2 separate regions of the Homo sapiens genome follow, and region 2 is linked to region 1. Evidence: fine-mapped expression QTL. A gene starts in region 1. The other region holds a variant in brackets. All regions are shown on one strand. Distances are from middle to middle. Region 1 holds the start of KIF1B (kinesin family member 1B). Region 2 overlaps UBE4B (ubiquitination factor E4B).

What was found.
Region 2: its variant is fine-mapped to the expression of KIF1B in monocytes after interferon gamma (Fairfax 2014, PIP 0.91).

The regions. Positions count from the first base shown.
Region 1 is chr1:10,203,031-10,218,383 of GRCh38, reverse strand. It overlaps KIF1B (kinesin family member 1B), which reads right to left and starts at 7,814. Exons shown (of 49, transcript NM_001365951.3): 1 at 7,506-7,814. RefSeq lists an enhancer at 6,026-6,681 and silencers at 7,583-8,102, 8,133-8,212, 8,299-8,593.
Region 2 is chr1:10,167,973-10,183,325 of GRCh38, reverse strand. UBE4B (ubiquitination factor E4B) reads right to left here. Exons shown (of 28, transcript NM_001105562.3): 24 at 15,056-15,190; 25 at 11,997-12,188; 26 at 4,508-4,682; 27 at 3,764-3,910; 28 at 2,087-3,431. The coding sequence ends at 3,370. Among named protein-coding and RNA genes, the nearest start is that of KIF1B, 35 kb to the left of the region's middle. RefSeq lists enhancers at 9,743-9,822, 12,733-12,782. The variant C/T (reference allele first, on the strand shown) is at 7,345.

The DNA of each region.
Region 1 (15,353 bases):
AGTAGCCAGAAAAACAGCAGTTTCAGAAGACTGAAACCAGCCCACAAACAGAAGTAGCCAAAAGTTCAAGGAAGAAAAAAACAAAATGAGTAACATACTTAGTACTGCAAAAGTGTGAAGTGTGCCTCCTGGTTTCAGCAATAAAGGCTGGAAACCACAGCAAGGGCAGTATCCATGAAGTGGGGGGCAGGAGGGGACACTGAAGCCAGCCTGTAGTGGGTTGGCACGGAAGTGGGAAATGCCAGTATCCATGACACTGTCAGAGCCTGGCTATGATGAGCAGGAGAGAGCAAATAGGAATGAAGGATTTTATTGGAAGGAACAGAAACGAAGGAGGGATTTTCCTCCCCCCAGCCCTTTATTTGTAATAGGAAAGACTTGCACATTTCTATACTTTATTCAATAGCTATTTACTGGGTGCCTACAATGCAACAGGCAGTTCCTGGGAAAAATAATCCGTGAACAAAAAAGATAAACAAACCTCCTTGTCATGGAGGAATTTACATTCTAGTAGGGAGAGGGAGGACATTAAAATTAATAAATCAGGTATAGAGAATCGAGAATGTAATCAGCATCACGGGGGAGTACAGCAAAGTCAGGGGGTTCAAGATTGTGGTGGTGGGAAGGATTGCTGTGCAGGTGCATAAATGAGGTCAGGGTGGGCCTGCTGATGTGCTGAGATTTAAGCAAAGACTTGAAAGAGGTAAAGGAGTTAGCCAAGCAGATTTCAGGGGAAAAGTATTCCAGGCAGAAGAAAGAGTAAGAGCAGCTGGGTGCGGTGGCTCACGCCTGTAACCTCAGCACTCTGGGAGGCTGAGGCAGGTGGATCACCTGAGGCCAGAAGTTCAAGACCAGCCTGGCCAACATGGTGAAACACCGTCTCTACTAAAAATACAAAATTAGCTGGGCTTGGTGGTGGGTGCCTATAATCCCAGCTGCTCAGGTGGCCGAGGCAGGAGAATTGCTTGAACCCAGGAGATTGTGCCTCTGCACCCCAGCCTGGGAGACACAGCAAGGCTGTCTCAAAAAAAAAAAAAAAAGAAAAAGAAAGAGTAAGAGCAAGTGCCCTATGGTAGGACTATGCCTGGTGTGTTCAAGAACAGTAGAAAAGGCTGGGCACAATGGGTCACGCCCGTAATCCCAACATTTTGGAAGGCAGAGGCGGGCGGATCACCTGAGGTCAGGAGTTTGAGACCAGCCTGGCCAACACGGTGAAACCCCATCTCTACTAAAAATACAAAAATTAGCTGGGCGTGGTGGCACACGTTTGTAATCCCAGCTACTTGGGAGGCTGAGGCAGGAGAATCACTTGAATCCGGGAGGCAGAGGTTGTAGTGAGCCAAGATCAGGCCACTGCACTCCAGTCTTGGTGACAGAACAAGACTCTGTCTCAAAAAAAAAAAAAAAAAAAAAAAAAAAAAAAAAAGAAAATGGGCAAGTACTGCAGGGAAAAGAAGAGTAACCAATACTGCGAGTTCCTACAGATTAGAACAGTGCTATCCCTAACAGAGGCCAAGACAGAGTAACCTCTTTCTCACACTGGGGGAAAGAACAGAAGAAAGAGGGCAGAGAAGTTTGTAAGTAGAGGAAGGGAAAGCTCAGGGAGTTCATGCCCTTTTTTCCTATGAGGTGGCAGGCAAGGTATTCTGCCAAGCATGGGGCAGTGACAGGTTTGAGTCAAGGGGTCCAGATTTTATAATAGCAACTGTGGAGAAATGGGGAGGGAGCTAAGCAGAACTGCTCCGACAGGGACCAAAGACAGATTTAAGGGAGACCTCGGACTACACATTAATTGTGGCACTAATCCCCAGCACTATGCAGGTTTCTCCATGACACGGAGTAAGAATGGAGGGTATGGATGGTAGGGATGATGTGAGGCTGGCTTCTGCATAGTAAGTCCTGAAGAATAATAAGAAAGAATAAAAACTGCAAGCAATGCAACCCAGAGGTCGTAGTATAGAAAAGGAAGGAAAAGAAGTAAAATCTGGAAGAGGCCGACGGTTTAGGAGACTTAGAGTGGGAGAACACACATAAAGTGATTATGAAAGTGAAAGCTATCAATTATCACAGTTTAAGACTTGAAGGTGAATTTGAGACCTTAACATGATGACAAGTTAAAAATGTGGCCATAACACTAAACAACTGGAACAGAATGAAGCCAATGTTTGCTTGAGCTCAATTCAAGAAATTTCACAGTTAACGGTAGTTACAAAGGAAACTCAGCATAGTGGTTACTTACTAGTACTTATGATTTTGGGGAAGTCACTTGGCCTGTTTTAGTTTCATCTGTAAAATGGGAATAACAGTATTTATTTCATATGGCTGCTATTAGGGTTAAATTAGTTAATAAACGTAAAGTGCTTAGAAAAAAGCCTGGCACACAGAAAGTGCTCAATATGAATAAGCTATTTTATCACTATTGTTGTTTCTGTTATTGTTTATTTACATAGTCATTGACATCTGCCAAGATGATGTCAAAAATCTGGATGAAAGAGAGAACTAAGCCAACAATATAGTAATCCAAAAGAGCAATGGGGCTGGGCACAGGGGCTCATGCCTTTAATCCTCCCACTTTGGAAGACTGAGGTGGATCACTTGAGCTCAGGAGTTCAAGACCAGGCTGGGCAATAGGCAATATAGTGAGACCTCCATCTCTACAAAAATTTAAAAATTAGCTGGGCATGGTAGCGCATGCCTGTGATCCCAGCTACTCAGGAGACTGAGATAGGAGGACCACTTGAGCCCAGGAGGTCAAGGCTGCAGTGAGCCATGACTGCGCCACTGCACTCCAGCCTGGGCAATAGAGTAAGAGCCTGTCTCAAGGGGAAAAAAACGGGCAATGGTAGAGGGTAGTATGGTTGAATGATATGCTTTGGTATAAACAATGTGATATTAAATACAAAAAATAGGCCGGGCACAGTGGCTCATGCCTGTAATCCCAGCACTTTGGGAGGCCAAGGTGGGTGGATCACCTGAGGTCGGGAGTTCGAGACCAGCCTGACCAACATGGAGAAACCCCTACTTTACTAAAAATACAAAATTAGCTGGGCGTGGTGGCACAGGCCTGTAATCCCAGCTACTAGGGAGGCTGAGGCAGGAGAACCGCTTGAACCTGGGAGGTGGAGGTTACGGTGAGCCGAGATCGCGCCGTTGCACTCCAGCCTGGGCAACAAGAGTGAAACTCCGTCTCAAAAAAAAAAAAAAAAAAAAATATATATATATATATATATATATATATATATATAAAATATATAAATTTTTAAATCCATCAAACATTTACAAGCTTGTGACTTCAAACACTATACAAAAAACCACAAGACAAATGTAAAAGTACCAATTGAGTATTAGATAATAAGTACAGTATTATGTACATACAACATTACAAAGAATTTTGAAAATGCTCTGACTGGAAATCACGGAAACCATATCAGGATACTAAATTGTACTAAAATGAAAAGGAGTTGGAGTTAACTTTATCTCACCATTTCTATATAGAAATGGTAGCCCAGGTGCAGTAGCTCATGCCTGTAATCCCAACACTTTGGGAGGCTGAGGTGGGTGGATCACAAGGTCAGGAGTTCGAGATCAGCCTGGCCAATACGGTGAAACCCCGTCTCTACTAAAAATACAAAAATTAGCTGGGCATGGTGGTGTGCACCTGTAGTCCCAGCTGCTCGGGAGGCTGAGGCAGGAGAATCACTTGAACCCAGGAGGTGGAGGTTGCAGTGAGCCAAGATCACACCACTACACTCCAGCCTGAGTGACAGAGTAAGACTCCATCCCAAAAAAAAAAAAGGGCAGGGCACGGTGGCTCATGCCTGTAATCCCAGCACTTTGGGAGGCCAAGGCAGGCGGATCAGAAGGTCAGGAGTTCGAGACCTGCCTGGCCAACATGGTGAAACCCCATCTCTACTAAAAATACAAAAATTAGCTGGGCATGGTGGCAGGTGCCTGTAATCCCAGCTACTTGGGAGGCTGAGGCAGGAGAATCATTTGAACCCGGGAGGCGGAGGTTGCAGTGAGCTGAGATCACACCAATGCACTCCAGCCTGGGTGACAGGGCGAGACTCTGTCTTAAAAAAAAAAAAGAAAGAAAGAAAGAAAGAAGTGGTAAAGTGTGAGTTCCTGGAAGGTAAAGAACTAAATCTCTACATGCACCCTCAGTTAATGGGTAATGCCTATAGTAAAAGAGCATCAATGAATCAGTGGCCCGTTAACCAAACAGTTCAACTCTGAGAAGTCCAAGGCATCTTTTTATTTTTAGCAGGCAAAGTCTGAGCCCAGAGTGGAGTGCAATGGCGCTGTCTTAGCTCACTGTAATCTCAAACTCAAGCCATCCTCCCCACTCAGCCTCCGAAGCACTAGGACTACAAACACACACCACCCACATCCAGATTTTTTTTTTTTTGGTAGAGATGGGGGTCCTGCTATGTTGTCCAAGCTTGTCTCAAACTCTTGATGTGAAGCAATCCTCCCGCCTCAGCCTCCCAAAGCACTGGGATTACAGATGTGAGCCACTGCATCCGGCCCAAGGCACCTTTTGCAGGTTTTTCCTACCACAGTCACATCTGTTTAATTTCTCTTCTATCCTGACAAGCTGCACAAAAAAAGTTCAAGAAGTATGCATATTTATTCACACTGTTTCACAGAATCCAGATATTCACCAGTACCTGTTCAAACGAGGCCATCTTTCAAAGAGAAATACATGAAATAGACATAAAATAACTTCAGAGCATTATGAAATTATATCATGTTAGTTTACAAGACCAAAAGGATATGCTTCCTCCTGGAAAAGATCTACTATGATTAGCAGCCTGGGAAGGGGATTACAAACAGGAAGGCAGGGGGCCCATTGTCCTTTACTTTGTACCCAGGACAAGACCACAGTGAGAAAATGGGCTAAAAAGCTTTGGCCTTAAGAAAGACTCCGTTGGCAGACTTTCTTGGACACTTATTCCCTGCACGAAATCAAAATGGGAAAGAAGAAAGAGAGAAAAAAGGAAAAGTGCATTCATATCTGGTCTTGAAAAGGAAAAACAGTCTGTTCTAAGCCTTAAAAGCTATACTTAATTGGATAAATTTTGGAAAAACACTCATCAGAGCAGAGCTACACATACTCATAAAACCTAGCCTCTGTATCAGATTCACAATCAGGTCTGATTTTACCAAATGCTGAAATTATTTTTAATCAAAAATATTCAGATCTTTATACTAATAAAGTAACTCTAAAAATTAAAAACTTAGAAATACTTCTAACTTAGGGCATGGAATTTCAAAACAGACATTCTGTATTTCTCTCATACTAGTGTAATGCAAAAAACACTAGTTTCTGTTGAAGTTACATTTGATTCAACAAGTTTTAAAACTAAAGCTTGATGACAAAAATAACAAAAAAATAGTGTTAAGACCTTGCTTAGCAAAAGCTATCCAAATTTTTTAAATGTGTGTGTGTATATATATATATATATATATATATATATATATATATATATACACACACGCATGCACACACACACATATATATATACACATTTTTTTTTTTAGCCAGGGTCTTGCTGTTGCCCAGGCTAGCCTCAAGCAATCCTCCCACCTCAGTCTCCCAAATAGCTGGGAATACAGGCATGAGCCACCATGCCCAGGTATTTATTTATTCATTTATTTTTGTAGAGACAGAGTCCCACTCTGTTGCCCAGGGTGGTCTCGAACTCCTGAGCTCAAGGGATCCTCCTGTCTCAGCCTCCCAAAGTGTTGGGATTACAAGGCATGAGCCACCACACCCATCCCAAAATTTTTTACATAGTTCAACCTGAGAAGTTATGAGAATGTATTTATGAACAAATTGAACTTGAATGAAAGCAAAGGCCACAAAGAAGAAAGCAGGCATGCCATCTCTCCAGGTCCTGTCCACATCTAGGATATAGAAAAGAACAGATCTACAGACTCATGCTGAACCCAGTTATTGATCATCTCCAGACCTGCTTTACAATACCAACCTATGTGTAATTCTCATATTCCACCTTCAAACAATACATTAACAACACTTGCTCTATAATCCAGCAACCATATCAACTTAATCAGAAAGCACCACCTCACTTCTTAGAGGAACACAAGAACTAGATTTTGTTATGACTAAACTAAGGAGACAAAATGCCAGCCTTTAAATAAAATATCCACCATGATATCACCTCTTAAGAGTTATTCAAATCTCATCAGCACACTTTCATCAGGCTCAGACAGGCACATCATGACACAAAGCGGAATGTTCAATGGTGGCAGAACAGCTGCTCAGAGCAGTAAGAGATATGAGCAAGGGATCTGTTGACAATCTAATTTCAGCTACCTCGAGATTCCACAAAGATGACAGCCTGCGTCCTCAGAAATGCCGCCACTAGCCTCGCCCACTATCAGAATACTCTGGTTTACTTCTTCTCTGCAAGTCGAGCGACTCTGAAAATCTATCCATCCAATGCTCTACGGCTACTCGAGGCCTCCATACTGATACAGTGGCCTTAGCAATTCTCAGATCGGCCTATGCACATGTAAAGCATCAGCAGGCCTTTCACAGCCCCCGCACTGGACGCAGAAGATGAATAGAGAAACACGGAATTTCACCCCAACAAGAATGGAATCTTGAAGGCAGTTTACCTTGGAAGCTCATTTAGCAATCAAGGAAAAAAAAAAAAAGGGATCTGGAAGCTCCATTCTGGCGTTAGGGGCGGGAATGTTTTGTGTTGCATGAACAATGACTAGCTTGCTCAAGCAGCCTCCCAACCCCCACAACTTGGCTTCTGGTCTGGCCAGTCACCCTGAAAGCTGCCAGGGCTGTCACTCGGTGCCTTCCAACAACTGGACTTGGCTCCTAAAGGATTTGTCAGATCATCCTCCCAATATGGCTGCCCGAGTAATCCCAGTCGGCTGAATGCCGAGACCACACCAGCCTTCCTCACACCTGGCCAGCATCCAACAAGCCCCCTCCCTTCCTATCGCACCCCTCTTTCCAGGCCTCGAGCCCTCGGCTCCCCCAGCGCCAAGCGATGACCTTTCCTATCGCCATCTGGCAAAGGGCATAACCACATTCCCAGCCGAAGCCCGATGCCCACCACAAAGGAGGAAAGGGGAGAGGGAAAATGAGAAACGATGGCTTCAAACGAAGCACAGCCGCCCCCCGGGCTGCAACGTGCGCGGAGCCCAGGGAACGGCCAGGCAGCGGCGGGTCTGGAGAGCGCTGGGCACAGCCGGGGCCTGGCAGCGCGGGGGAAACGGAGGGCCGGTGCAGGGCACTGCGGGGGCCCCAGCCGACCGCTGGACGCCGGCCCGGGACTCGCTGCTGGCCTAGGGAGGGGTCCCCTCCCCCGAGGGCGAGGCTCCCGCACCCGGCGCCCGTCCCGCGCTACCTCCCCTCAGACCCCGCCCGGACCCCGGCCCGGCCGCTCCTCCCCGCGGAAGCGGCCCCCTCCCCAACCCCGCGACCGCGGCGCCAACCGCGGCCAGCCCCGCCGCCTTACCTCAGCCGCGCTGCAGACCGACGGGCGGACCGGGTCAACAGGAGCCGCGGCGCGCGGGGGCGCGGGGGGCCGGGCACCGACGCACCTCAGCGCGAGCAGCGGCCGCCGCGAGCCGCAGGGCGCCGCTCCGCAGCCCCATCACGCAGCAGCCCGGCACCGCATCGAGGTGGGAGGTGGGCGGTGGGCGGCGGACAGGAGTGCGCGAGTGCGGGAGGCCAGGGCGCGGCGACGGCCGGCGGTGACGGCTGCGGAGGACGGGGAGCTGCTCCGACGCGCGCGGGCGCCTCCCAGGACCGCTGCCGTCACACTGCCCCGCTTCGGCCCTCGCGAAACTCCGCCCGCAGTCGCCGGCGCGGGACACCGCCCCGAGCTGGGCCTCTGCGCGTCACCTCGTATCCGCCCCGGCGCCCGCGACGGACACGGGCTGTGACCAATCACAGCACAGAGCTCGGGGCGGCCAGCCAATCGTAGGGTGAGCCGGGGAGTGGGGCTGCTGCGGGGGGCTGCAGGAACATCGAGCGCCCCCTGGTGGCCCTCGGGCCGGCTCAACCAGGGGTGCGGGCTGGCCAAAGCCGGAGCCCGGAGTTCCCTCCCGGGTGACCCCCAAGGGCATTCGTCGGAATCAGCCGCCCCCAGCCACCCCGATAATCCGCCTTATACGGGGACAAAAGATTGACTGAGTGGAGCGGGGCGGGGCCCAGGGGTCCTGACGCCCGCAGAGGAGCTGGGATCAACATGGGAGGCGCCGAGAGTGGAATCATTGTCCGTCGGAAAACATCTCGCAGGCGGAACCGGCCGAACGCGGCGCGGTGGGAGCGGAACCCCGAGAGGGGATGAGCGCATCCCGCGGGAAGCTGCCTGGCCTATTCTTACAGAACCCGAGCAAAACACCTCCCACGCGCCACCTCGGGAGAGAAGGCGGAATGAGTAATGGAAAAGCATGACTTGGTGGGCATTCCACTTGTCTCCTTGGGAGACCGCGGAAGGGCTGTGAGGAGAGGAACAAACGCTTTGCACCGTCCCTGAGTTAACGAGCCCAGCCCCCTTCTGGGAGATGCCCTTGAAGGAGGGAGAGTGGAAGTTAGAAACCCGGAGGACACAAAAGCACGAGCAGTGATTTCTTTAAAATCAGATTTAGATTCAGCTGGAAAGAAAAATCTCACTGTTCAGAAACTGTTCAATTCAGTACTTAACAAAATATAATCTTCAGTGATAATATATTCAATTATCAGGCCCAGGCCGAGCACTATTACTTTATAAGGTTGTGAATTATTTTTATTTACTAGCAGACATTGAAAGTAAAATCACATGTCTTCCCCTGAATTAAATACAGTATTATTGTGAGTAAAAGGTATTATGTACAAGCATATGCACTAAAACATCGAAATTAATTTTCTACACTAATAATTCTGGAAAATCTCCACCACCACTCAAGTCCTCAGACTCTTCATCCGCTTTTATTGATCACGTCTCATTTTATAGAATTTAAGCTCCACCTACCTGCAAAAGGATTTGACATAGCTTACACTAAAGCATACAGCAGTGAAACCGTATAGCTTTAAAATAGGCGTAAAATTCATAATAATGAAACAAGCAAGAGACTTTTTAAAAGCTGTTTGAATGAGAGGCATGCCTAGAAAGAAAAATTTTTTTGTTTTGTTTTGAGACAGAGTTTTACTCTCGCCCAGGCTGAGCTCAGTGGCACGATGTCAAATCTCTGCAACCTCCGCCTCCCAGGTTCAAGCGATTCTCCTGCCTCAGCCTCCCGAGTAGCTGGGATTACAGGTGCCTGCCACCACGCCCGGCTAATTTTTGTATTTTTAGTAGAGACGGTGTTTCACTATGTTGGTCAGGTTGGTCTTGAACTCCTGACCTCAGGTGATCCACCTGTCTCAGCCTCTCAAAGTGCTGGGATTACAGGAATGAGCCACCGCGCCCGGCCAGAAAAACAATATTTTAAAAATCCATAGTCAAGGAAATATGTTGCCACTGAGCACAGAACTCAGCTCTTAGCTTCCTGACGGCTAAGAGTAAAATGAAACTATAGTAGGTTAATAAAGAGGAACTCATCAATTCAACAGTAGACACCACTTCATCATAGCGTGGACCTCCTTGCGTAAATACTGTGGTGAGCGCCATGGAGAGTTACGAAAACCTGGGTGGCTGTATTGCTTGAGCTCTCAATGGAGCACAATCTAAAAAGAATCTAAAACGTAGTGAAGAACCAGGCGCGGTGGCTCACGACAGTAATCCCAACACTTTGGGAGGCTGAGGCGGGTGGATCACTTGAGGTCAGGAGTTCGAGACCAGCCTGACCAACATGGCAAAACCCCATCTCTACTAAAAAATACAAAAATTAGCCAGGCGTGGTGGGCACGCCTGTAATACCAGCTACTTGGGAACCTGAGGCAGGAGAATCACTTGAACCCGGGAGGTGGACGAGGCGGCAGTTGCAGTGAGCTGAGATCCTACCACTGAACTCCAGCCTGGGAGATAGAGTGAGACTCTGTCTCAACAAAAAATAAAATAAAATTTAAAACAAAAACGTAGTGAAGAGGGTGTGATTGTGATTGGCAGGAGAAGAAGCTAGCCAAAGGGCACACAGAAGGCACAGAAGGGTCAATAAAGGCAAAGAAGGCTGCTCCAGGATCCAAGGCCAAACAGCCCACTCTGCATAAGCCTTTTGCCTCTCTGACAGATGAAGTCACACTGCCCAGCCAGTTTCTCAGATTACAAATTCTGTATAAAAGCATCTCTTTAAAATGATAAATAAATTACTAGAAAATTGAATGTAGCCATGATCTGGTAGGGCTGTCTCTGGAATGCAAGGATACGAGAACATCAGAAGTCCTAGTCACGTGGTGCACTGCCACTCTCCCATCACAATCACAATCACAATCAGGTTTCTGGATACAAAATCAATACACAAAAATCCGAAGTGTTCCTTTTTGATAGGAAGACTTTATTATTACTATTATTTTAGACAGGGTCTCACTCTGTCACCCAGGCTGGAGTGCAGTGGTGTGATCACAGCTTACTACAGCCTCAACCCTTGCCCCCTGGTTTAATCCATCCTCCCACCTCAGCCTCCTGAGTAGGTGGCACTATAGGCACACACCACCACGCCCAGCTAATTTTTCTATTTTTTGTAGAGACGGCTGGTATCCAGCTCCTGGACTCCAGTGATCCATCAACCTCAGCCTCCCAAAGTGCTGGGACTACAGGTGTGAGCCACTGAGCCTGGCCTTTATTGCTATTTTTAATGGGATCTTTTTAAAAAATCAAGTCTTCCCGGCCAGGTGCTGTGGCCCACGCCTGTAATCCCAGTACTTTGGGAGGCAGAGTAGGCTGATCGCTTGAGCCTAGGAGTTTGAGACAAGCCTAGGCAACATAACGAGACCCTATCTCTACAAAAAATACAAAAAAAAAAAAAAAAGTAGCCAGACATGGTGGTATGTACCTGTAGTCCCAGCTGCTTGGGAGGCTGAGTGGGAAGATCAATTGAGCCTGGAAGGTCAAGGCTACAGTGAGCTATGATTGCACCACAGCACTCGAGCCTCAATGACAGAGTGAGATCCTGTCTCAAAAAAAAAAAGAAAGAAAGAAAAAAAGCAATAAAAGCTATTCAATATTTAAGAATAAATGCACCTGTAATCCCAGCACTTTGGGAGGCCCAGGTGGGTGAATCACTTGAGGTAAGGAGTTCGAGACCAGCCTAGCCAACATGGTGAAACACAGTCTCTACTAAAAATACAAAAAATTAGCCAGATGTGGTGGTACATGCCTGTAATCCCAGCTACTCGGGAGGCTGAGGCAGGAGAATGGCGTGAACCCAGGAGGTGGAGCTTGCAGTGAGCCGAGATCTCACCACTGCAGTCCAGCCTGGGTGACAGAGCGAGACTCTGTCTCAAAAAAAAAAAAAAAAAGGTGCAGGATAATAGGTGCGGGACAGTGGCATTTATACATAAAGTCTGAAGTATGAATATGAGCACTATACTGTTTAGGACTAAATTTATGTATAGTCAAGTGTGAAAACATGGATGGCAATGACAATCATCAAATTCAGGATGAGATTAACCCAGGAAAGAAAGAGAGAAAAACAAAACAAACAAACAAAAAAAGGGAGGATGACATGAGGATCTGCAACTTTATGTGTAATATTTTATTTCTTGAAAAACAAAATAACAGGAAGATGGAAATGTTGAGTTGGGAGGAAAAACCAGAGAATTTATTGATTTGTCTTGAACTCCTTATTGTTATTATTATTTTTTGTTTGTTTTTTGAGATGGAGTCTCGTTCTGTCGCCCAGGCTGGAGTTCGGAGGTGCTATTTCTGCCGTTGATGATTTTCCGCCTTCCATTTTCTTCTCTGGAAATGTCTATTATTGATTGATTGATTGACCGATTAATTGATTTAGAGACAGAGTCTCCCCTTCTCACCCAGGCTGGAGTGCAGTGACTCGATCTCGGCTCACTGCAACCTCTGCCCCCCAGGTTCAAGCGGAGCGATTCTCCTGTCTCAGCCTCCCAAGTATCTGGGATTACAGGTGCCCACCGCCATGCCCAGCTAATTTTTGTGTTTTTAGTAGACACGGGGTTTCACTGTGTTGGCCAGGCTGGTCTCGAACTCCTGACCTGAGGTGATCTGCCCGCTTCGGCCTCCCAAAGTGCTGGGATTACAGGCGTGAACCACCACGCCTGGCCCTGTCATTATTATTATTGTCTTTTTTGTTTTGTTTTGTTGGGAAAGAGTCTCACTCTGATGCTCAGGCTTGAGTGCAGTAATGCGATCTCAGCTCATTGCAACCTCTGCCTCCTGAGTTCAAGCAATTTTCGTGCCTCAGCCTCCTAATGTAGCTGGGATTACAGGCATGTGCCACCACACCTGGCTAATTTTTGTAATTTTAGTAGAGATGGCCAGGCACAGTGGCTCGCGCTCGTAATCCCAGCACTTTGGGAGGCTGAGGCAAGCAGATCGCATGAGGTCAGGAGTTCAAGACCAGACTGACTAACATGGAGAAACTTCGTCTCTACTAAAAATACAAACTTAGTCGGGCATGGTGGCACATGCCTGTAATCCCAGCTGCTCGGGAAGCTGAGGCAGGAGAATCGATTGAACCCGGGAGGCAGATGCTGCAGTGAGCTGAGATCGCGCCATTGCAATCCAGCCTAGGCAACAAGAGCAAAACTCTGTCTCAAAAAAAAAAAAATTGTAGTAGAGATGGGGTTTTGCCATGTTGGCCAGGCTGGTCTTGAACTCCTAACCTCAAGGGATCCACCCACCTCGGCCTCGGCCTCCCAAAGTGCTGGAATTACATGCATGAGCCACTACGCCCAGCCTATTGTCATTATTTAATACGGTGTTTAATACAGTGTATGTGGGTGGGTATCATGTTCGTTTTTTTTTTTTTTTTGAGACAGAGTCTCACTGTGTTGCCCAGGCTGGAGTGCAGTGGCACGAGCTCAGCTCACTGCAAGCTCCCTGTCCCGGGTTCACGTGATTCTCCTGCCTCAGCCTCCCGAGTAGCTAGGATTACAGGCTCACACTACCACGTCGAGCTAATTTTTTGTGTATTTTGAGTAGAGACGGGGTTTCACTATGTTGGCCAGACTGGTCTCGAACTCCTGACCTTGCAATCTGCCCGCCTTGGCCTCCCAAAGTGCTGGGATTACAGGTGTGAGCCACTGACCAGGCCATCATGTTAGTTTTTATACTTTACTACCTGTTTAAAAAATACATATGTAATTTATTCTGGGCAAGGTGGGATGCACCTGTAGTCCCAGCTACCTGGGAGGCTGAGGTGGGTGGATCTCTTGAGCCCAGGAGCTCTAGGCTACAGTGCACTTTTATTGTACCTGTAAATAGCCACTGCACTCCAGCCCAGGCAACAGAGCAAGACCCCACCTGTAAAAAAGTAAATAACTTCATAACTTAAAAAATGATAGGTCAGGCTCAGTGGCTCACACCTGTAACCCCAGCACTTTGGGAGGCTGAGGCAGGTGGTTCACCTGAGGTCAAGAGTTTGAGACCAGCCTGACCAACATGGTGAAACCCCATCTTTACTAAAAATACAAAATTAGCCGGGCGTGGTGGCACAGTTCTATACTCCTAGCTTCTCAGGAGGCTGAGGCAAGAGAATCTCTTGAACTCAGGAGGCAGAGGTTGCAGTGAGCTGAGATCGTGCCATTGTACTCCAGCCTGGGCAACAATAGAGAAACTCCATCTCAAAAAAAAAAAAAAAAGATATTTGTCCAGAGGCATCCCAGCTGTGATGCCACCAGTAATCCTCTGCAGACTGGGTCGGCAGCTACATCAGAGGGCATGGGACCGATCCCCAGCAGCTGAGCCATGTGTGAGGAGCCGAGTGGGTGGGAGACAGCAAGCCATAATCCTCTCTCTCTGACCTGGTTTTCAGATGCCCTAGTCTCACAGCCTGCACTGTAAAAGGCCACCGCGTCTCGGCCACACATTTGGTAAATGTGTTATGGAAATCCCTTCCTGACTGAGTCCATATTCACTCAAAACTGCCACATGCCGACTCTTGCACTGACAAAAATGTGGGAAGAGCCCAATTTCATTTCTGGCAAAATCCTCTACAGGACCATCCATGCCCATAAAGAGAATTACTTTCCAGTTATTTTAACCAAGGTCAGGTAACACATGGACTTGAGTCCTAGATCATGTTGCATGAGTAAAAATAGGAACTGCTTACATTGTTGGACTTAAGAGACTAGGCAGCTCTCTACCCCATTAAATCTAGAAAATATATGCTTTCCTATGCAAAATCTTTATAAATATTAATTAATGTCTATTTTATGTAAGTATGTATCTATTAAACACTGAATTAAATAATGACAATAAGGAGCTTAAATCAATAAATTTTCTGTTTTTTGCCAATGAGTACTTTAACAAACAGGATGCAATCTGGTTTAACTCATTAATATTAATGTACAGTGGCACCACTTATGCCAGGGTTATTTGGAATCAGAAAATCAAAACTGGAAGATGCTTTAGAATTGGTCTGCTACCTAGTCAGGAAATAAGCACAGCAAGTCTCTAGTTTGCTGAGGACCGAATTTTTTTTTTTTCTTTGAGACTGTGTCTGGCTCTGTCGCCCAAGCTGGAGTGCAGTGGCGCAATCTCGGCTCACTGCAACTTCCACCTCCCAGGTTCAAGCGATTCTCGTGCCTCAGCCTCCCAGCCTCCCTAGTAGCTGGGACTACAGGCACCTGCCACCACACCTGACTAATTTTTGTATTAGTCAGAGATGGGGTTTAGTAGAGATGGGGTTTCACCATGTTGGTCAGGCTGGTCTCAATCTCAAGTGATATGCCCGCTTTGGCCTCCAAAAGTGCTGGGATTACAGGTGTAAGCCACCATGCCTGGCCTAGGGCTGATTTTTTTTTTTTTTTTTTTTTTACGGAGTCTCGTTCTGTCACCCAGGCTGGAGTGCAGTGCTGTGATCTCGGCTCACTGCAACGTCCGCCTCCCGAGTTCAGGCAATTCTCCTGTCTCAGCCTCCCGAGTAGCTGGGACTACAGGCATGTGCCACCACACCCGGCTAATTTTTGTATTTTTAGTAGAGACGGGGTTTCAGCATATTGGTCAGGCCGGTCACAAACTCCTGACCTCAGGTGATCCGCCTGCCTCAGCCTCCCAAAGTGCTGGGATTACAGGTGTGAGATACCACTCCTGGCCTAGGGCCAATTTTTATATGGTGGCTTCAACTGCCTAGAATCCAGAAGGAAGGAAAAGAAAATTAGCCCAGGAGAATACAAAACTCATGCACCTTCTTCACCGGAAAGTTCCTCAACCTGCGTTGAATGTCTCTTTATTGATATTTCACCA
Region 2 (15,353 bases), 35 kb after region 1:
GCTACTGTGTCTCCTTCAATCAAAAACGTACCTTGAGGCCTGGTGTGGTGGCTCATGCCTGTAATCCCAGCACTTCGGGAGGCTGAGGCAGGTGGATCACTTGAGGTCTGGAGTTCAAGACCAGCCTGGCCAACATGGTGAAACCCCATCTCTACTAAAAAAAAAAAAAAAAAAAAAAAAAAATTAGCTGGACATGGTGGCATGTGCTCTAGTCCCAGCTACTCGGGAGGCTAAGGCAGGAGAATCACTTGAACCTGGAAGGTGGAGGTTGCAATGAGCCAAAATTGCGCCACTGCACTCCAGCCTGGGTGACGGAGCGAGACTCCGTCTGAAAAAAACCAAAAAACAAAAAAAAGTACCTACTCAAATGAGGCCTATTCATGTCACTTTAGCACTCCAATCAAATTGCTGTGAAATTCACTACTCGATGTACCAAACCCAGAGGTTACAAAAAGTGAACGGTGTGCTCAGCTTTTTTTTCAAAAGATATTCAATCAATATCTTTTTAAAATCTACACAACACTGAGTCACAACACAAGGCAGATTTTAATCATCTTTCTCTCAAGGATCATTTCTCTTCTGCCAATCTGATTCTCTTATTTGACAATCTTCCTTTTAGCCAAGACCTACTTTTAATATATTTTGGGATTTATTTCAATATCCACAATTAAGAGACTGCAGACAAACACAAAACAGCAACTCTTGAGACTCTAAAAATGGAAACCCAAATCATCTTCCCCCTATAGATAGTACAGGCAGGAGACTGACTGTGTCTCTGTCCTATCCGGCAGGTCCTTGAAACCTCTGAATTATTCAAAACGACAAGTGCATATGGCGGTATAAAGCAGCATTTTATTACATTCACGGGGACAACTGGAGGATTAAAATAAGAGTTTGGAATCTGGGATGGAGAGGAGACAAGCAGTACACACTGGTCAGATAACCACACAAACAAAATTAGGCAAGATGCCAGTCAGTATCCTAATTCTACAGGCACTAAGCTTAGATATGTAAGTTTAGTAAAAAGTAAACCCAATTAAACAGAATCTTCTGCATGGTGAGAATATGGATTTTTTTTCTTTTTGCTTATATTGCCTAAAATTTTTGCTATCATGAACTTTTTCCTTATTTATTGTGTCTATCTATCTATCTATTTTTTGAGACGAAGTCTCACTCTTGTCCCCTAGGCTGGAGTGCGATGGCGCGATCTCAGCTCACTGCAACCTCCACCTCCTGGGTTCAAGCAATTCTCCTGCCTCGGCCCCCCGAGTAGCTGGGATTATAGGCACCCACCACCACGCCCAGCTAATTTTTGTATTTTCAGTTGAGATGGGGTTTCACCATGTTGGCCAGGCTGGTCTAGAACTCCTGACCTCAGACGATACACCTGCCTTGGCCTCCCAAAGTGCTGGGATTACAGGCGTGAGCCACCGCACCTGGCCATGTTATATATATATATATAAATATATATAAATAAATATATATGTAAATATATATAAATATATATTTTTTCTTTTTTGAGACGGAGTCTCGCTGTCACCCAGGCTGGAGTGTGATGACGTCATCTCGGCTCACTGCAACCTCCACCTCCCAGGTTCAAGCAATTCTCCTGTCTCAGCCTCCCGAGTAGCTGGGACTACAGGCGCTGCCACTACGCCCGGCTAATTTTTTGTATTTTTAGTAGAGATGGGGTTTCACCATGCTGGCCAGGCTGGTCTCGAATTCCTGACGTCAGGTGATCCATCCGCCTCAGCCTCCCAAAGTGCTGGGATTACAGGCGTGAGCCACCGGGCCCGGCCTGAGGAAGAATCTTGAAGGTCAGGGAAGATACTTGAGATAAAGCAGAAGAAACTCAAGAAAGGCAGAAGACTGAATATGACAAAGCTTACCCCCTCAAATCAGCAAACAGTGAAATGAGAACCAAATGTCGAGACTGACATGAATAAGAAAGTTTTCTTTTAAAAATAGCAGCTCCTAATTGGATCCAGGAAAGATCATTCACCACATGCAAACTCACTTGGCTCTTGTTTACCCACCCGCCCTGCCCTTTTTTTTTTTCCACAAAAGAGAAGAGACTCAAAGAAGATTTCTTCTGAACGTGTGTCACCATTTATTGTAGTTTGCGTTAGGAATTGAACAGAGGACATTGTCTGTGGAGGGAAAAAAGGAAAAGAAAAAAGAAAGTATGCTTTTTATAGACTTAATTTCTTCAGAACACTTTATGGTTTCAAATCCTTTTTTTTTTTTTACCCCAAAGGAAATTTGAGAATTCAAGTATGTTAAGTAGGGAGCAGTAATACAAAAAGTCTTATACTTGTGTGCGCGTGTGGCTGTGTTTGTCTGTGTGTGTTGAAACCGGCAGACATACTCCCACATTCTTGCACCCTCTTTTGCTTTGGTAAGGCCAAACACATCACACAAATGACCCTGCCTCAAACTCACACACCCAAGGGTTGAAGAATTGATTTACCCCCAGAGGATAACTGTGAAGGTTTCAAACTGTCACGTAGCATTAAAAAAAAAACCCAACCCTCATCTCCCCAAAATATAAGTCACATAAGTCCTGATACACTTACACCCCTAGATTTTGCTGCAGCTGCTCCTCAGATGCCGAAGAGAGGCTTATCACAAGGACCAGAGCAGCAGGATTTTCTTTATTTTGTTTAGAATAAAAAAATCTTAAAGGGACATTTCAAAAGAAAAAAAAAACTGAAATTCAAATTCTGAAAATATCTTGCCTTTTTTATTAATCATGTCATCTAACACCAATTAAAAAAACAAATATGTGAATATGATATAAAAATACGATCCCAGGATTAACACTTGGTAGCAGGCACAGTTATCTCACAGAATATATGTTTGGAGGGCCAGGGAAAGGAGTTTACTTTTGTTTTTGCTTCTCTTAAAAAAATCCACAGCAGTGCAAGTAGGGTCAGGAAGGGGGAGAGGGGAAAAAAGATTCTTTAGCAGCAAAATGTCCAAGGTTCTCTAATCACAATCAAATCAACGGATATTGGATTAAAAAAAAATTCATGAAGGGATGCTGCCCAGACCCATTAGCCATCACTAAAAGACTTCCGTTGCCCCAAACTGTGACATACGAAGGACATGCTTTATTACACAAGCAACCATAAAACCTGTCCCTTAAGCTTTTGACCGTGTTTGTCACTTAAATATATGTACAGGAAGCGGGCTCCTCTTCTCATCCATGTCCTTTCAGGTCTCAGCGTTTGCTCGCTCTGGGTGGGCCTGGGGTTGGTTTGCCACATTTGGCCTCCAACACATGAACGGCAGCTTCGCTGCGGCCGCTGCTTCTGCTTGCCTCGTTGGCCTTGGCTGTGTCTAGCAGAGGGTGGGCGGCGGAACGGTTTAGTGATCGCTGTTCTGTTTCTCTCTCATCCACGCCTGAATCTGCTCTTTCAGTTCTGGCACTGAGAAAAGAAAAAAAGGAGGATTAATGCCCCAGATGGGAGGGCTCTTCCTGAGAGAGGATGCTTGTCGCTCTGTATAAATGGGAAGAAAAGGCCATTCTTTCCCTCATTGAGCCGAAGACTCCAGAAGGACTGGGACATGAGAGGGAGGGACTGGATGTCTGCAGGGAAAAAGGGCCAAGAGTGTTTTGGGTCTTTGCTACAGAGTGTCATAAAGTAGGTAGTTTCTGCATTTGATAAATTTCCCTTCTGCTTCATCTCCAATATGTGACTTGGGCTTTATCTCTTGGTACTGACGCCAGCGCTGCACCTCAAACTGCACCCTCCTCTACCTGGTTCCAGCATGCTCTCTGTCAGCGTCTGCCGGTTGAAGGGGTCCGTGGGGGAGTTGAGCAGGTGCCGCAGGATGATGGAGCGGTCCATGATGGTGCCAGAGGGCAGCCGCACGGGGTCTGTCATGAGGGTGTCCATCAGAGGGTCTGCGGGGACAAAGCAAAGCAAACTCTAATCTACTGAGAGCCCACGACTGAAAAAGAAAACAAAGCCCGTTCTACCAGCGAAAAATCTATCCAAAGGAACAGCAATCAAAGGGCCCCTGTGAGGCCCCCAGGTTTAGAAGGAAATCAGCCTTCAATAAAGGCATATACATTGCCTTTTGTAAGGGGAAGGCGCTTCTTTGTCAGCTACTGCTGGGGGGAGGGAACAGAGAAGAAAGCCTGGGACAGACCCAGCAGCAGGCCCCACAGGCTCCGTGGCGAGGACGGCAGGCTGGAATTCTTTGTCTTAGGACTTCTGGGAATTCTTTGAAAATGTGAATCCCCACTTGCAAAGGCAGCCCTGCCCTTAGAATCTTCAGGGTTGTTATCTGGCTTTAAGTCAGGCTAAGCTAAGGATGTTTCTTCCTCTCAATTTACAATATGAGCTAAAAATAGGCAAATGTAATTTAAGACAGATTGTCTCAAAAAGCAGCTCTAGCACACCATTAAAAAATTAATTGCACAGGACGTCCTCTTGTAATGTTATCGATTTCCAGTTAACTCAAAAGAAATCAGCATGAAAACGACGAGTCCACTTGCCTCTGAACTCATCAGGAGCGTCGCTGTAGTCGATTTCTGCGCGTGCGTTCTTGGCCACTATCTCCTCCACTTTCTCGGCGAGCAGCTTAAATTTTTCTATTGCTATTGTGGATTTGATCCCTGCCTTCCGCATCTTTGAAATAACTTCTTCAAACAATTCCTTACTGTAGGATCTCTGCAAAGGAGGAATGGCAATGTGAGACGTAAATGTACGTCAGGTGGAAAAAAGCGAGCTGCAGAAAATATCCAAAGTATTATCCATTTGTGGATTTTCCCCCACTAAAAAAGCCCTAAAATTATATATACACTTATATATTTTATATATCCGTCTTTATGCATTTATAGCCTCATAAAAGTATGCACTTTTTATGCTTACAAATGGATAAAGACTGGAATAATATGTGCCAAACTGTACGAGGTCACTCCCTCTGGAGAGGGCTGCAGGACTGAGGCAGACGGGCTTTTTTTTTGAATTTTTACAGCTAGCACGCATTTCTTTTAAAGTTTAAACATTAAAAAGAGAAGGAAATCTAGTCTATTTCAGTCCTTGGGGGGCACTGTGCCCTGGCAGCCTATAAGAAAGAAGAGGTGAAAATTTCAGCTCTCTTCCACAAAGGTAAGCATGGTAAAAACAATCCACTATTGTTCATACTCTAGAGGAGCCTTCTCCTGTTCACTTTCAAGCTTCTTCAAGCTCATTTAGTTCAGCACTAGCACATGTCAGGGGCTCCATGGACGTTAGACCACCCTGGTGAACTGATGAATAGGCCTGGGAACAGACACGATTTATGTCCCCAGGAAGGGAAGTTGTGGAGTGGAGGTCAGGCGCCCACCGTGGACCCAGACAAATCTGAACTTGAATTCTGGCTCTACCACCTACCAGCTGTGCAGTCGTAGGCAAATCTGAACCCTCCTAAGCCCAGGTTCTTTGAGTGTAAAATGGGCAGAGTAACATCTACCTCACAGGTGCCTAATTCATAAAAATCACTGCCATGCCAAACAGTAAAGTATGCTGTAGTTTGTATTTATAGTAAAACATATATGGCAAAAACACTGGCCACTTGCTTAGTGATGATATATATTTGTATTTGTATCACCATCGCAAAACAAGTGGCCAGTGTTTTTGCCATATATGTTTTACTATAAATATATATATATATTTTGAGACAGAGTCTCATTCTGTCACTCAGGCTGGAGTGCAGTGGTGCAATCATGGCTCACTGCAGCCTCAAACTCCTGGGCTCAAGCAATCCTCTCACCTTAGCCACCCAAGTAGCTGGGACTACAGGTGCATGCCACTATGCCCAGTTAATTTTAATTTTAATTTTTGAGACGGAGTCTCGCTTTGTCACCCAGGCTGGAGTGCAGAGGCACGCTCTCGGCTCACTGAAGCCTCCACCTCCTGAGTAGCTGGGATTTCAGGTGTGCGCCACCACGGCTGGCTAATTTTTTTGTATTTTTAGTAGAGACAGGGTTTTGCCATGTTGGCCAGGCTGGTCTCGATCTCCTGACCTCAAGTGATCTGCCCACCTTGGCCTCCCAAAGTGGTGGGATTACAGGCGTGAGCCACTGTGCTCGGCCTAAACCTCTTTTCTTCATAAAGTACCTAGCCTTGGGTATTTCTGTATAGTGATGCAATGGACTAACACAAGAATATCTGCAAATCATATATCCAATGATACATGTATCATCTGATATGACCTAGCATCCAGAATACATAAAGAACTCTTCTGGTTGGGCGCGGTGGCTCACGCCTGTAATCCCAGCACTTTGGGAGGCCAAGGCAGGCAGATCATGAGGTCAGGAGATCGAGACCATCCTGGCTAACATGGTGAAACCCCGTCTCTACTAAAAATACAAAAAAAATTAGCCAGGCGTGATGGTGCACGCCTGTAGTCCCAGCTATTTGGGAGGCTGAGGCAAGAGAATTGCTTGAATCTGGGAGGTGGAGGTTGCAGTAGGCTGAGATCGCACCACTGCACTCCAGCCTGGGCAACAGAGGGAGACTCCATCTCAAAAAAAAAAAAAAAAAAAGAAAAAGAAAAAAAGAACTCTTCCAACTCAACAACAAAAACACAAACAACCCAATTAAAAAATGGGCAAAGAACATGAATAGACATTGCTCCCAAGAAAATATAAAAATGGCCAGCAAGCACATGAAAAGGTGTCCAATGGTATTTGACATTAGGGAAATACAAATCAAAACCGCAATGAAATACCACGTCACTCCCACTAGGATGAGTATTTAAGAAACAAAAACAAATTAACATGTTTAATTTTTAAACTTCATGATGGAAAGAATATAAACTAAACCAAAGAAAAAAAATGAAAAAGAATGGAAACTTAAACCTTATACATTGCCAGTGGGAATGTCAAATGGGCGGCAGCTGTAGAAAACATTCTGGCATCCCTCAAAAAGTTAAACATGGAATTACCACATGACCAACAATCCCACTCCCAAGTGTAGACCCAAAGTAACTGAAAACAGGTGTTTAAATACTTTTACACAAATGTTCATAGCAGCACTATTTGCAAGAGCCAAAGGCTGGAGACAACCCAAATGTCTATCAATGGATGAGGATAAACAAATGGTGGTATATCCATACAATGAAATATTATTCAGCCTTAAAAAGGAATGAAATACTGATACATTCTACAACACAAATGAACCTTGAAACATGATGCTAAGTGAAGGAAGCCAGACATAGAAGGTTACACACTGTATAAGTCCGTTTATATGAAATATCCCGGAGAGGTGAATAGGTAAATCCAAAAATAGGAAAAGAGAGACAGCAGATTTGTGGTTGCCAGGGGCTGGGGCAAGGGGGTCTAGACAG[C/T]GACTGCTTTAAGGGTTTTCCTTTTGGGGTGATACATGTAGTGGAACTAGGTAGAGGTGGTGGCTGTGCAACGCTGTGACTGTACTACATGCCACAAAATGGTACACTTTTAAATGGTTACTTCTACGTTATATATTAATCTTACCTCATTAAAGAAGAAAAAAATAACAAGAAAATGAAGCATTACATTTGTGAGACGCAGACTCATATTCTGGTAGGTTAGAGGAGGGAGCAATTACTTAGGAAAGACTGACTGCATGGGGGAAGTGTGACTGATGGGATTTTTATTTTTTTTATTTTCTTTTTTATTTATTTATTTATTTATTTATTTGAGACGGAGTCTCGCTCTGTCGCCCAGGCTGGAGTGCAGTGGCGCGATCTCGGCTCACTGCAAGCTCCACCTCCCAGGTTCACGCCATTCTCCTGCCTCAGCCTCCCGAGTAGCTGGGTCTACGGGCGCCCGCCACCACGCCTGGCTAATTTTTTGTATTTTTAGTAGAGATGGGGTTTCACCGTGTTAGCCAGGACGGTCTCGATCTCCTGACCTTGTGATCCGCCCGCCTTGGCCTCCCAAAGTGCTGGGATTACAGGCGTGAGCCACTGCACCCGGCTATTTTTTTTTATTTTCTAAGTAGGTGCTGAATTTTTTTTCTTTTTTAATGGAAAATGGTGTTAACAGACAATGCTTCATGGACGACAGATATGCAGTCTGTCCATGGAACTGGCGTCTGCCCATAAAGACACAGTCTAGGCCACTTTAACATCTCCCTATCCTGGTCCTCTTGGCTCCCAGGACCAATGTGGTATCCCACTTCTCTGGCATGGAGCTCTGCCCTCAGATTCCTGAGCATCAAGCTCAGTGGCTCTTCACCCAGGCACCTTTCTGTCAGCCTTCTGGACATGGGTCTTCAGCCTACTCTTGGTATAGAGGGAGAGAAGCCTCTCAGTTTCTTTACCTGCAAAGCTGTCATTTTCCTCTTCCTTTGTCTTTCCCGGAAAACAAGACATACCAAACCAAACTAAGACATACCAAAGCAAACTAAGATACTGCTGCTTCCAAAGAAGAAAATGCAATTTTACAACCTCTTCCCCAGTGCTTGCCAACCATCCATCCTTCTGCACTTACCGCCCCCTGCCCCACCAAAGCTCTCTTCTAAAACAATCAAGTAAGCAGGCCCCTAATCAGCTTATGGCCAATATAAATAGAAAATACCCAACAATCAGCACACACACCACACTGTGAAAGGAAGCAAAAACACTTTTTTTTTTTTTTTTTTTTGAGACGGAGTTTCGCTCTTGTTGCCCAAGCTGGAGTGCAATGGCACGATCTCGGCTCACTGCAACCTCCACCTCCCAGGTTCAAGCGATTCTCCTGCCTCAGCCTCCCGAGTAGCTGGGATTACAGGCGCACACCACCATGCCCGGCTAATTTTTTGTATTTTTAGTAGAAACAGGGTTTCACCATGTTAGCCAGGCTGGTCTCAAACTCCTGACCTCAGGTGATCTGCCCGCCTCGGCTCCCCAAAGTGCTGGGATTACAGGTGTGAGCCACCGCACCCAGCCCAATACTTCTTCTTTTTTTTTTTTTTGATATGGAGTCTTGCTCTGTCACCCAGGCTGGAATGCAGCGGTGCGATCTCAGCTCACTGCAACCTCTGCCTCCCGGGTTCAAGCTATTCTCCTGCCTCAGCCTCCGAGTAGCTGGAATTACAGCCGCCTTCCACTGTGCCCGGCTAATTTTTGTATTTTTAGTAGAGATGGGGTTTCATCATCTTGGCCAGGCTGGTCTCGAACTCCTGACCTCATGATCCACCCACCTTGGCCTCCCAAAGTGCTGGGATTACAGGTGTCAGCCACTGCGCCCAGCCCCAACACTTCTTAAAATATGCTTTTCTCTCCATGTGTCACTGGCACATGTGTGTTTGTTTCACCACTCTGGAAGAACAGGACTATTTAGACATTCAAGGAGCCCCGTGTGTCACTGTGCCAGAAACTGCTGTCTACAACCCAAGCCAGGTGCCACCAGAGGCCACCACCATAATCTAAGGCATGACCAGGCAATGCAATGTGTGGTTGGTCACCAAACAAAGGCCGCTCAAAGCATTCCTTTGTCACCCAGTTGCTTTGCATCACCTCACTGGGCGTGCTGTGCCCACCCACACCGAAACCTTCTGTGTGTTACGTTAAGCGCCTGTGATGTGGCAGCCACAGCACAACCACCCTGGAGAGGGCGCACACTAAACAGCTCTTCCAAGTCTCTCTACGGCAACGATGGAAGAGCCCTGGGGCTTTCCACACCGACCTCTGGCTGGGCTGGAGACGCCAGCTACAGTCAGGTGTGGACCCCACCTCAATGGGTAAGTGCTTCCCTTTTCTTTCCCTCACTGCAGGCTATGACTTGCTTTCTGTTTCTAAATCAGTGCAGTATTATATAGTCGGGGGCTAGTAAAGCAGTGTTTGTGTGTGTGTGTGTATATATATATATAATTTTTTTTTTTTTTTGAGACAGTCTTGCTCTGTCGCCCAGGCTGGAGTGCAGTGGCTCGATCTCCGCTCACTGCAAGCTCTGCCTCCTGGGTTCACGCCATTCTCCTGCCTCAGCCTCCCGAGTAGCTGGGACTACAGGCGCCCGCCACCACGCCCGGCTAATTTTTTTGTATTTTTTTTAGTAGAGACGGGGTTTCACCGTGTTAGCCAGGATGGTCGTGATCTCCTGACCTTGTGATCCACCCGCCTCGGCCTCCCAAAGTGCTGGGATTACAGGCATGAGCCACCGCGCTCGGCCAGCAGTATATATTTTAACATCTACAAGTAACTAAAATTTCCTAACCCTCTTACGAGCCACTACTTTGTATGATAAAACTGCTTTAGACACACAGTCATGTGTCGCTCTGAGAAATGTCTTGTTAGGCAATTTCGTTGCTGTGTAAACATCATAGAATTTACTTACACAAACCTAGATGGCGTGGCCTACACCACGTCGAGGCTCTATGGTATAGCCTATTGCTCCTAGGCTACAAAACTGTACAGTGTGGGACTGTACTGAATCCTGTCGGCAGTTGTAACACAATGGTGAGTATTCTAAACACAGAAAAGGTACAGTGAAAATACGGTATTATAATATGATGGGGCCACATGGTCTTTGTGGTCCAGCATCGACAGAAACAGCACATGACTATGTATTTTTTCACTGCAAATCCTTTGTTAAGACCACTTCCCCTGCTACATCAGAAAGCACCTACATATGTGAGTTATAGCTCAATAAAGCTGTCATTAAAAAAAAGTACCTACAATGCTTCTATTGTAATATTACTCCTTTGGATGAGATATGGGTAAAGAACCTTCTAGAATGCCTACTGATGATTAACTTGAGCCATGAATAGTATTTGGATAAGTAGTGTGAACAAAGACAGAGACACAGAGACAAGCATGGTTCTTTGTGGGCATTTTAAGTGGACAGCAGAGAGACTGAGGATATGGGTTCAAGGCCAGGCTGCCTGGACATGGATCATGCCTCTGTCCCACACTAACTCTGTGACCTCGAGCAAGCTATTTAACCTCTCTGTGCCTCTTTCCTCACTTTAAAACAAAGACTTTACAGAACCTACCTCAAAGGATTTTGTGAGGACTAAATGGGTGGAGATACGAAAAGTGGGTGAAATGAGGTGTACAGTTAATAAACATTAGCTGTGAGGACGTTGAAAATGAGGCAGAACGGACCATGGAGGGGGCCAGCCCTTTATGGGATGACTAGAAGATCACGCAGGGACAGCTTAGCCTAAATCGGTGGCTGTGGAAATGAAGCACACACAGACAGATCTGCTCACAGGAGACCCACGGAATAAAGGAGAGGGAAGAATGTAAAGAAAACCACACAAGATTTTTAATCTGGACAACCCCAAAAATAACAGCACTCTAGCAGGAGACTAGGAAAGAAGATTCTGATCCCTTGAGAAACCGGGCTCTTTTCAGAAATGTAATGGATTTGTCAAGAAGGCCCTTAAAAAGATGGGGTAAGAACTCAACTGGAGAGGGCTCAGAGCGCCAAACCTGCTCTTTACTTTTGTTTTTTACTTACTTACTTACTTATTTATTTATTTTGAGACAGAGTCTCACCCTGTTGCCCAGGCTGGAGTGCAGTGGCACAATCTCAGCTCACTGAAACCTCTGCCTCCTGGGTTCAAGCGATTCTCCTGCCTCAGCCTCCCGAGTAGCTGTGATTACAGGCATGCACCACCACACTGAGGTAATTTTTTGTATCTTTAGTAGAGATGGGGTTTCACCATGTTAGCCAGGCTGGTCTCAAACTCCTGACCTCTTGATCTGCCCGCCTCGACCTCCCAAAGTGTTGGGATTACAGGCGTGAGCCACCGTGTTTTTGAGACAGGATCTCACTCTCTCACCCATTCTGGAGTGTGGTGGTGCAATCACGGCTCACTGCAGTCTGGCCTCAAGCAATCCCCCTGCCTTGGCCTCCCAGAATGTTGGGATTACAGGCCTGAGCCACCGCGCCCAGCCCAAATCTGCTCTTCACACTCAAAGGAAAACAACCCACTCATCTTCATTTACACCAGACGAGTTCCCTGGCCACTGTGGTTATTATCTCCAAATCTGCCAGTAAACTCACAGAGAGACCAACTCAACTCACTGACCTGGTCGTCAGCAATGGCTTTCGCGAACCGAGCACAGTCCAGCTGTAAGTAAATATCCGTCAGTTGGTCCAACAGCTTCTTTGGTTCAAAGCCGTATTTCTCAGGGTTTTCAACTTTCAGGTCACGGCACTTGGGGCCACAAAGTTGCTGAAGATTAAAGTTCAGCATTGCAGCCAATCGGGGTCCAAGCTCCTAGGAAATCACAGGATAATAGGACAATTCATGCTGTTGAGACAAGTGAAAAGGACCAAAAACTCCCATTTCAGTGGAGGAACAGGAATTGGTTGGATTAATCTTCAAAGAATCCTTACAGGTGCTGTGTATCATAAGCTGAAGAAAGACAACATTATATTTCAACTTTACTCCCCATTTCTGATCTGATAATTCTAATACTTAATGGAATGTTGCAGGCTGATGAAATATTTATTTATAAATACCAAAAGAAGCCAAACTTTTCTTTACATTTATGCTTTTAATTAAAAAAAGTATCACTCCAAATTCATTGAGAAACAAGTAAAAGAGAGAAAATTATACAAATCTTACCATTATCTGAGCAAAAAAAGTTTTGAGTCAGCTCTTCCAGCCAGTATTTCATAAACTTTTTTCCCCATAAATGTTAAAAGCCCCTGGCAGTTCAGTCTGTGTCATTCTTATGTACTTATCAGATACAAATAACAAAGTAATGCAAGGAAAGAAGATAAAAGTTATGCCTTGAATAGTTTTAAATCTAGTCAATGAGACAGAGTAAACTTAAATGAAACACCTGGAAAATAGTAATAATCTATGCTGTAATCTCACAAGGTGACTCAGTACCCACTACGGTTGGGCATACATGGTTTTAAGCAAACCTGAAACAGGAAGATGTGGCTTAGAGAGCATTAAACACTGGCCATAAAAGGGAGTCACGAAAGCATTCCTTTAAGTCACAAGGTTTTCATGAAATGTAATAACTGGATTTATACAAATTCAACATATACTTAGCTTTTCAAGAATTTGCTTTTGCACAGAGTACTCCTGTATTTCACTGTTGAGAAGCTGTGAAATAAAAGAGTCATAACAGGACAGAGTTGGTCATTCTGTTTGAAGTAGGAGAGATCTGAGCTAGTCAGTAAAGAAGGTGAAAATGCAAACCTTAAAGGTTTGCAAAATGAAATGCCTTTACACTTTGTCTGCAAAGGCCAGATAGTAAATAGTGTAGCAAAGGAAATGAAAACATCACAGCAGGCACAGGCACAGGCTGGGGCCAAAAGAACAGGGCTACAGTGTACAGATGGCTCAGGTCTATGAGCAGGCCTTAAAATAAATTTATTTATTTATTTTTGAGAAGAGTCTTGCTCTGTTACCCAGGTTGGAGTGGCGTGATCTCGGCTCACTGCGACCTCTGCCTTTTGGGTTCAAGTGATTCTCCTGCCACAGCTTCCCAAGTAGCTGGGATTACAGGCATGCACTACCACGCCTGGCTAATTTTTGTATTTTTAGTAGAGACGGGGTTTCGCCATGTTGGCCAGGCTGGTCTGGAACTCCTGACCTCAGGTGATCCACCCTTCTTGGCCTCTCAAAGTGCTGGGATTACAGGCATGAGCCACCGTGCTTGGCCTTATGCCAGGTACTTCTATGTGTGTTTTCGCTTAGTCTTCCCAACAAGTGTACAAAATAGGTGGGTGTTGACCTTGTTACAAAGGAATTAATCAACTATTTACTATCTGGCCTTCACAGAATTCTGCAAACCTTGAAGGGAGGCCAGTGTCTGGCCAGTGAGCTGTTTTGTTTCATGCTCCATGGCCTTGCACTTTGCAAACTTTTAAGGGAGGCCAGTGTCTGAGCTGTTTTGTTTCGTGTTCCATGGCTCTTGCACTGAAATCTGTTTATGAAGAGACATGAGGTGGAAAGTTAAAAGAGTGGAAAAGAGTTGTCCCCAGGCCAGGGAGTGGCAATAGTGCCTCTGCTGATGACAGGAGTCACATAACAGAGAGTCACATAACGAAGGTAAGAGCAAATACAGAAAATCAGGGGAAATATGCAGTAACGTCATATTCCATTGTAAAGTAAACATGTCTCCACATAGGCAAATGGCTACCGAATCTTAGGTCCCCGTCTTGCCTTCCTCACTACCCTTGTCCTGGCCACACCATAAAACTTTTCAACTTTGTGGTGGGGGTGGCTGAAGCAGGGCAGAAATCTTCAGTGATGCTGCTCAGTTTCAATTTTAGAAATAGGAACCAGGTCTTACTAGTTGAGAACAAACATTCTGACTATTTGCAATCCACCATAAACCCTAGTGATGGCCGGCTCCCATTAACCTTTGGCTTCCTGAGTGTAACAAAGGTACAGCTAAGAGAGCCAAAGATTTTACACGGTCTCAATTATTCTACTTAATATCCTTCCATTGTCAACAGCTGTTACCTTATGCTTTTTCTTCTTCTTTTTTTTTTTTTTTTGAGATGGAGTCTCACTCTGTCGCCCAGGCTGGAGTGCAGTGGCACCATCTCGGCTCACTGCCAGCTCTGCCTCCCGGGTTCACGCCATTCTCCTGCCTCAGCCTCCTGAGTAGCTGGGACTACAGGTGCCCACCACCACGCCCAGCTAATTTTTTGTACTTTTAGTAGAGATGGGGTTTCACTGTGTTAGCCAGGATGGTCTCCATCTCCTGACCTCGTGATCTGCCCGCCTTGGGCTCCCAAAGTGCTGGGATTACAGGCGTGAGCCACCGCACCCGGCACCTTATGCTTTTTCTATAAGTAAAATATAGGAATCAATAATGGTAAAAATATGTCATGACATCAACATGAATAATCCAATGTACTGTCTAAGCACAAAGTGCAGTAAGGCATTTGGAAGTGGCTGTAGACTATGTGGTGACATCAGACATCTGCTCTTCAGTCCATCAACAGAGTCTGGTATCAATTAGCATAACTGGGAACAAAATCAGTCACAGAATTTCACTTATTGATGACTGTGATCCTAAAATTTCCAGAACTTCAACAACTGCTAAAGTTATAAGTGAGAGAGTCTGAATGTGGAGTCCAAACCACCAAACAGAGCCCCGGGTTTCTACTCACCGGTCTGAGGAAGGGCTTCTGGACCTGCTTCGTGAGGATGTGGAACATGTCCACGGTTTCGGTGGCCAGGGCGAGGTAAGAGCGGGACACACGCTCATCCTGAGCAAGCTGAGACTGACGAGCCTGCTGCTGATCCTAGGACACATCGAACAGACGCTGAGTAAGGCTCGGTCCTGGTCATCAGCTCAGCAAAGCGCCAAGCACATAACTGGAAAGTGCGTGATAAACCCAACATGCTTAGGGAATGACAGAACCGCCTGCCACATGTCCCAGATAACTGAAGTTTCATCCTTTCAGC